2 linked regions of the Homo sapiens genome follow. The protein of the gene in region 1 interacts with the protein of each later gene in a biochemical or structural test. Each region holds a gene or a part of one and is shown in the gene's direction. Other genes may lie near its edges.

Evidence for each region.
Region 2: the proteins of RNF38 (region 1) and KPNA4 interact in a test that uses a peptide from one of them, tested with the Homo sapiens proteins (one large-scale study listed by BioGRID and IntAct).

The regions. Positions count from the first base shown.
Region 1 is NC_000009.12:36,347,826-36,352,424, reverse strand, and holds part of RNF38 (E3 ubiquitin-protein ligase RNF38), read left to right. Parts: intron 1-1,225; coding exon 1,226-1,310; intron 1,311-4,599. UniProt on the Homo sapiens protein: Acts as an E3 ubiquitin-protein ligase able to ubiquitinate p53/TP53 which promotes its relocalization to discrete foci associated with PML nuclear bodies. Exhibits preference for UBE2D2 as a E2 enzyme.
Region 2 is NC_000003.12:160,562,772-160,566,707, reverse strand, and holds the start of KPNA4 (importin subunit alpha-3), read left to right. Parts: upstream 1-1,136; 5' UTR 1,137-1,425; coding exon 1,426-1,494; intron 1,495-3,936. UniProt on the Homo sapiens protein: Functions in nuclear protein import as an adapter protein for nuclear receptor KPNB1. Binds specifically and directly to substrates containing either a simple or bipartite NLS motif.

The DNA.
Region 1 (4,599 bases):
TCTTAGGGAGAAAGGAGAAAAATTTATTTATTTCTATGTCTTAGAACTACTCTATTTGGATTAAGTTGGTCTGTAACAGAAATTCCCATGGGTAGGTTTGTTGTTTTTTTTTTTTAATTTGAGATGGAGTCTCGCTCTTAAGTCTGTGCTGGAGTGCAGTGGCACCACCTCGGCTCGGCTCACTGCAAGCTCTGCCTCCCAGGTTCCAGCGATTTTCCTGCCTCGGCCTCCCAAGTAGCTGGGATTACAGGCATGGACCACCATGCCCAGCTAATTTTTGTACTTTTAGTAGAAACAGGGTTTCGCCATGTTGGCCAGGCTGCTCACGAACTCCTGACCTCAGGTGATCCGCCCATCTTACCCTCCCAAAGTGCTGGGATTACAGGTGTGAGCCACTGCGCCCTGCCAGTAATTATTTATTTCTGTCTCACATAATAAAGTCTAGAAGTAGGCAGCTCAACGATGATTTCGTTAGCCCTGTGACTATGAACAATGTTAATGGCTTCCTGTATAAGATCTAAGGTGGCCTCTCAGGCTCTAGTCATATGACATTCCACCTAGCAAAAATAAAAATAGATTCCTCTGCCTACCTGCTCCTCTCAAGGATATGTCCCAGAAGTGGCACGTATAACCCCTGCCTCTGTATCACATTGGCCAGAACTTAGTCACATGTCTATAATTACTTTCTGGGAATGCTAGGAAATACAGTTTTTATACCAGAAGGCCACGTGCTTACGTTACCACACTGTGGTCATAGTTTTTCCTTCCTTCCTTCCTCTCTCTCCCCGTTTTCTCTATTTATCTTTCTATCTTAATGTCAGATATAGTATGTCTCCCAATTTGGTCTTAAAATGTTTCAGTTTAAGGTCTTTTGCATTTCCTTATAAATTTTTAAATCAGCATGTGAGTTTTTACTTAAGTGCTTGCTGCAATCTTGGTAGGTATTGCATGGAATTTATAGATTATTTTAAGGAGAAAGTGACATCTGAATGATATTGAGTCTTCTAATCTTCTTATGTGGTATATTTCTGTTTATTCACCTTTAAGTTATCCTAGCAATCTATTTGCAGTTTTTATTGTACAGTTCTTGCATATGTTTTGTTAAATTTGTCAGATTAACACTAACCATTCTTCATCCTTATAGCACTGGCCTCTGTCCTCCCTGTCCTGTTCATTGATTTAATGTACTAACATATCAATGCTAGTGTGATTGTTTTCACTGCAGATCAATGCTTCCAGTGCCACCTGCAGTGGGCCCAACTTTCAGCTTTGAATTAGATGTAGAAGATGGAGAAGTAGAAAATTACGAGGTTAGTAGATGAATTGTGAATTAATTTGGGGAATATTGTGTGCATGAAAGTATTATTCTACTTAACTCTTTAAACCACAGGTGTCCAATCTTTTGGCTTCCTGGGCCACATTGGAAGAAGAATTACTGTGTTGGGCCACACATAAGATACACTAATACTAATAGTAGCCAATAACCTTTTAAAAATTTGCAAAAAATACATCTCATTTTGTGAAAGTTTATGAATTTGTGTTGGGCCACATTCAGAGCCATCCTGGGTCACATGCAAGCCATGTGTTCAACAAGCTTGATCTAAACATGTATTAGGTAAACACTTTGTGGATTTCAAGATACAAACATGTCATAAAAATGTTTTAACATGTTTAAGGATATTTGAATATGTAATACCACATAGCTATGATAACAGGTAGGTAGATTGGTGCTCTATTAGAATTACGTACAATTCCAATGAGAATGCAAATGAGAAAACAGTGAATTTTGATTAGGCATGCTGAAAAGATTTTGTGGAAGCCAAAATGTTTGAGCTAGATCTTAAATAATGTATAAGCTTTTCATCTTTAAGATTTAGGCAGAGAAGGGCTAGACATTCTTGAGAATCAACAGATGGTCTGTGGTTAACATAAAAGGGAGAAAATCGGCAGTTGATTGAAAAGCTCAATTGGTTGTCCTTCAGTGCTTGCTACAGAGTGGACATGATTTTGAATATTGTGGAGGAGGAAGGAGCCACTAAATGTTTTTGGTGCTTTATGGCATCAGTACTTGTGAAGAGTCCAAACTCTGCCACTACTGTGAAGTAATCGATGGGAGTGGTTAGAAAATGGTGACAAGGAAACCCATTTAGATGTTGTAATAGGTAAGGCAATAAATTATAAGACCATGCATGTTCTGAACCTTAGGAACTGCGAATAGAAAGGAACACAACAGTCAACCAGTTTTTGACAAGGCACCCAAGAAAACACAATGGGGGAAGGATAGCCTCTTTAAGAAATGGTGTTGGGAGGCTGAGCGCAGTGGCTCACCCTGTAATCCCAGCATTTTGGGAGGCCAAGGCGGGTAAATCACCTGAGGTCAGGAGTTCGAGGCCAGCCTGGCCAACATGGTGAAACCCCGTTTCTATAAAAATACTAAAATTAGCGAGGCGTGGTGGCGGGTGCCTGTAATCCCAGCTACTCGGGAGGGGGAGGCTGCAGTGAGCCAAGATCACACCATTGTACTCCGGGCTGAGTGACAGAGCAAGACTGTCTGAAAAAGAAAAAAGAAATGTTGGGAAAACTGGATACCCACCTGCAAAAGAATGAAACTGGACCTTTACACCATACGTGAAAGTTAACTCAAAATAGATTAAAGACCTAAACTTACTACCTGAAATGATAAAAGTGCTGAAAGAAAACAGGGGAAAAGCTCCTCGATATTGGCCATGGCATTGGTTTTTTGGCCATCACACCACAAGCATAGGCAACAAAAGCTAAAATAAATAACTAGGACTACATTGAACTAAAAGGCTTCTGTACCGCAAAAGAAAGAAACAGCAGAATGAAAGGCAGACTACAGGTTGGGAGAAAATATGAAAAACATCTGATAAGGGGTTAATATTTAAAATATTCAAGGAACTTACACAACTCAGTAGCAAAAAAAATGAATAACCCAATTTAAAAAAAATGGGTGGAGGACCTGAATAGACATTTCTCAAAGAAGACACAAAATGTCCAACCAGGTATATGAAAAGGTGCTCAACATTGCAATCAGGGAAATGTAAATCAAAACCACAATAAAATATCACTTCATACCTGTTAGGATGGCTGTTTTCAAAAAGTCAGTAAGTATTGGCAAGAATCTAGAGAAAAGAGAATCCTTTATTCCATGGGCTGCAGAGTGAATGTTGTGTTAGCAGGCAGGAAAACCAGATTCATCTCTTTGTACATCTTCATCAGAGCACTTGAGCAGTAATATTTTGAAAGGAATCTTTTTCTCTTGAACAAGTCTCAAGTTGTCTTAAAATGTTCCATAAACCATACTGTAAACAGACGTTTTGTCATCCAGGCTTTATTATTGGGCAGTGTAGATTTAGCATAATTTCTTAAGGGCCCACAGAATGGCAGATGATTATTGGCTTCAGCCTACAGTCACCAGCTGTGTTATCCCCCCAAAAAGAGTCAGCCTGTTCTTTGAAGCCAGGCACTGCCGCCTTTTCTTTCTAGCTATGAAAATCTTAGATGGCATCCTCTTCCAATATAGGGCTGTTCCGTCTACATTGAAAATCCATTGTTTAGTGTATTCACTTTCATCAATGATCTTAGATAGAGCTTCTGGGTAACTTGCTACAGCTTCTGTATCAGCATTTCCAGCATCACCTTGCACTTCGTTGTTATAAAGATGGCTTCTTTCCTTATACTTGATGAACCAGCCTTTGCTAGCTTCCAACTTTTCTTCTGCAGCTTCCTCACCTCTCTCAACATTGATAGAATTAAAGGACCTTGTTCTGGATTAGGTTTTGGCTAAAGAGAATGTTGTGGCTGGTTGGATTTTCTATCTGTATCACTCAGACTTTCTCCATATCAGCAATATGGCTGCTTTGCTTTCTTATTCGTGCGTTCACTGGAGTGACTTTTCTGTTTTCTTTTTGTTTGTTTGTTTGTTTTGTTTGAGACAGGGTCTTACTCTGTCACCCAGGCTGGAGTGTATTGCCACGAACTCCGCTCAGTACAGCCTCAACCTCCCAGGCTCAAGCGATTCTCCCACCTCAGCCTCCTAAGTAGCTGGGACAGTAGATACATGCCACCACACTTGGCTAATTTTTGTGGATTTTTTTTTTTTTCTTTCAGAGATAAGGTTTTGCCATCCAAGGCTAGTCCAAGTGTTGGGATTACAGTCATGAGCCACTGTGCCCAATGAGAATGGCACTTTTTCTATTCGAACTTTGCCTTTGCCTTTAGAACATGGTTACTGGTTTGGTGCAAGAGGCCTACATTTTGGCCTGTCTCCGCTTTGACATGCCTTTCTTACTAAGCTTAATCATTTCTAGTTTTTGTTTTGTTTTTTTGAGACGGAATCTCACTCTGTTGCCCAGGCTGGAGTGCCGTGGCGCAATCTCGGCTCACTGCAAGCTCCGCCTCCTGGGTTCACGTCATTCTCCCGCCTCAGCCTCCCGAGTAGGTAGGACTACAGGCGCCCGCCACCATGACCGGCTCATTTTTTGTATTTTTAGTAGAGACGGGGTTTCACCGTGTTAGCCAGGATGGTCTCGATCTCCTGATCTCATGATCCACCCGCTCAGCCTCCCAAAGTGCTGG
Region 2 (3,936 bases), on another chromosome or scaffold:
ATCTGCATTTTAAACACTTATCTGCACGTTGTTCTACTAAAAAAATATACTAGAAAGGACCGAGAGTCAACGATTCTGAAGGAGTTTGTATCAGGGTCTCTTCTCCCTACCTCGTCAAGTTTAAACACACCCAACGCCTCGATTCCTTGCTTCCGACCCGAGTTGCTGCTTTACATATCCCTGTACATTTGAGGTGTTATTCGTTGATATTTCAATATATTTTAAAATAATTTTCCATTTCTGTTTTGTTAAATTTTTGAATACGTTCTTTTGTATCTCGTGTCATTTCTGCCTCTGGTAACGTTGTCCTTGGTATCCTTGGAACTCATTTCCTTTCTCAACACACAATATTCCCTGTCAGCTGCCACGGGCCCCGCCCTCCAGAAGTTCATACTTTGTGGTCAAGCAGCTTCTTTAACTTTTTAAGACGAATTACCTAGGAAGTGCTATTGTCCCAGGATCACCAGCTCTGCCTAAATTCCTAACTGTTGCGGGTGCTTAGTCACAGAAGATGAATCAGATTCGTCTAATGGGCCCTTTCCTTTTCCACCCACCTTTCCTGTCGCTTTCCGCTGAGCCTCCTCAACTCACGTCATCCCAGCAGGTCCTGGCCCCCAGACCCGGCCCTGGACGGCACGGAGCCCCAGCCCGGGAACGCAGCTGCGAGCGTCCGACCGGGAGACAGCGAAGCTCAGATCTCTCTGCAAAGCGAACGGAGAGCGCAAGGAATGCCCAGGAAGACAGGGCGCGCCCGGGGAGAAAAGAACGTTACTTTAACGCAGCCTCGACCCTGAACCCCCGGCATCTAGGGCTTCCTGGACGAGTGGAGCAAAACAACTCGCCCTGCTGCGTTCCCGGGCCTCTCCTTCCCCTTGCTGGTTTCCCCTTAAGTCTACTTCTCTATTGCTTCCAACCCCTCTCTCCGAAGGCACGTGGTCCTTCCCCGCCTGCCCCCGCCGCACCCCTCCGGGCCCGGAGCCGGCTCCTCCCAGCGTCGTTCGCTTCCCCTTTCCGTTCGCTCTTTCCGCCCCGGCTCTCCATCGCCCCTTCTGATTGGTCGAACGCACCGGAGCCTGGTTAGCCAATGGGCGAGCCGGGCTGGAGGCGATGGGCGTGGCCGCAGCGCCGGGGCCCTCAGATCGAGGCTGCCTCCCCCTCTCAGCCGGCAGCACATTCCGTCGCCTTGCCGCCGCCCGGCCCCACAGTTGTCTTTGCCGGAGCTGCAGTCGCGCTGGGGTTAGGGCGGGGGGGCGGGCGGGGAGAGGAGAAGGCCGCGGCGGAGGCAGGTGAGAGGAGGAAGGAAGCGGCGGCGCGGCGGGCACAGCAGCTCAGGCGGCGGCCCGGTTCCTGGGAGTGTCGGTGCGGCGCGTTGGTTGGGGCGGATCCCGCGGGGCCCGGGCGGGGGAAGGAGTCACCGGCCCGGCCATGGCGGACAACGAGAAACTGGACAACCAACGGCTCAAGAATTTCAAGAACAAAGGCCGCGACTTGGAGGTAAACTCGGGGACGACGCCGGAGGGGTGGGGGCTGTGGGCCTGGGGCCGGTCTCCGCCGGGACCCCGAGTGTGGGGATTAGGGGCGGGAGCCGCCTCCAGGCCTCGGGGAATGGCGCTAGGGGCCGGCCCGTCTGTGACGCCTCTGCTAGCGCGCCGGGAAGTTTATGTCGGGCCTGCTCCGCCTCCGCCGGGGAGCGAGGTGCCCGGGTACGGCCGGCGCGGCCTAGGCCTGCCCGGCGGAGCCGGCCCGGCGCGGGTGCGAGGGGCCGGGCCGCGCGGCGGGGAGGCCGGGCGCGGCGCGTGCGGAGGAGGCGTGCGTGTGCGGCCGGTGCTGCCCCGGCCGGGCCGCGGCCCCTTCCCCGGCAGTGGCGGAGATTCCGGCTCTCGCTCGGGCACCGACGTCTGGCGCCGCGGGAAGGAGGGCGGTGGGAATGGGAGGGTGAGCGTGTGGCGACCGAGTGGGGCTCTGAACTTCCTCAGCGAGGCCCGAGGCGTCTCCACTTAAAGGCATTTTTTCTGGTCTTCCCGACTCCCGCTTTACCCCTGCCTCCCCCCAATATCCAAACTACAGGACAACTTCTCCGTTGAAAAAAACACCCCCGGCGTGAGAGGCCATCCTGGTGATCCTAACAGTGCCTTCCAGCGGCCTGTGTTTTACTCTGGATATAGCTGATTCAAGATGTGGCTCACGGTGTGCCCTCTTCCAGGCAAAGGATACCCCTTATTTCAGCTTGTCCACAAATCTCTTTACCCCCTCCTGAGAGGAGACCACCAGCTGCATTCTTACATATAAAGTCTAAAGGGTTATACAAAGCTGTCATCCTCTAGTCTACAGTATCCTTTCCCTCCACCTGCTGGTGGTGGTAGTGGGGGATGGGGTGGGCTAGGGAATGGCACCATCACGTTTGATTATTTAAAAAGGAAAAAAAAAGCTTCATTGTCTTAGATACAGCTGCTCCCGAGATTGTCTACATAAGGTGTATGGGTTAAATACACACATGCACACACGCATACCCACACACCCCACTGAGATTTTTGATAGAAGACTTCTTCCCTTCAGCTTTTAAGAGTTTAGATAAATAGATTTAATACTTCCCTTCTGCATCTTAATCACGAGTTTAGCTTTTAGGGAAAGTGGTCAAGCAGTATTTTTTATGTTGTTCTCGGTACGTTTTCATAATGAAATCTTCAACTTCCCATGGCATTTCTGAACTTGAGAGTCTGCTTGACTGAGATATTTTTTGGGCTTTTTACAAAGCTGTTAATATTATCTTTAAAGTAGTTCAAGCGTTTTAGTGGGTTTCATAATTTGAGGGACGACTAAGTGTCCAGGGATGTTAATTCTGTGGTTCTTTTAAGGTTAACATATTACCATTGTGATCCCTTTTTTTAATGCAAAGATGTCACATCTTTATTGAGATAATTTGCATGCCATAAAAATGAGCTTCTTAAATAACAATGATTTTTCAGTAAATTTACTTGTTTATGAAAGAATGTGGTGAAAATGTTTTTTACTAATATGAATACTTAGAATGAGAAAAAATCACAAATGATAAAACTTAAAAACTGGTAAGTACCACAAAATTACAGAATCCAGAAAAATAGCAATTAGGTGCTTGACAGATCCCTATAACCCTTTTTTCCTCTACATTTCTGGCTTCATTTTTCTGGCAGCTTCATTGAGATGTAATTCGCATGCCATACAATTCACCCACTTAAAGTGGCTTTTAGTGTATTCGCAGTTTTGCAACCATCACCACAGTCCATCTTAGAACATTTTCACGGCCCCAAAAAGAAACCTGTACTCATTAACAGTCACTCTCCAATTCCCAACTACCCCAGCCCCAGGCAACCAGTTTTTGTCTTCTTAGATTTGCCTATCCTGGACATCCCATATAAATGGAATTGTACAATTTGTGCTCTTTTTTAACTGGCTTCTTTCACATAGTGTAATGTTTTCAAGGTTTATCCGTGTTGTAACAAGAATGTATCAATGTTTCATGGCCGAATGATCCTTATGGCCGAATGATCCAATGATCCTCCAGCTCATGGATATACCACATTTTATTTATCCCTTCTTCAGTTAATGAACATTTTCATTGTTTCCACTTTTTTAGCTATTTTACATAATACTACTAAGAACATTTTTGTGTGGATGTATGTTTTATTTCTCTTGGCTATATACCTAGGAATAGAATTGCTAGATCATATGGAAACTTACTTTGAACCTTTGGTGGAATTGCCAGACTTTCTGAAGTTATCCTTATTTTTTAAATTGATGTTTCCTCCTACCTCATATCTTTTGGCACTTTAGTCAAAATCAGATTAAGTCCTGAGGCTGTATTAGAAGAATATTGTGATGTGTGACTTTTAAAAAATAAGTATATATTGACATTAGCCAGGTTTTTTTGTTTTGTTTTGTTTAGAAATTCATAGTGCC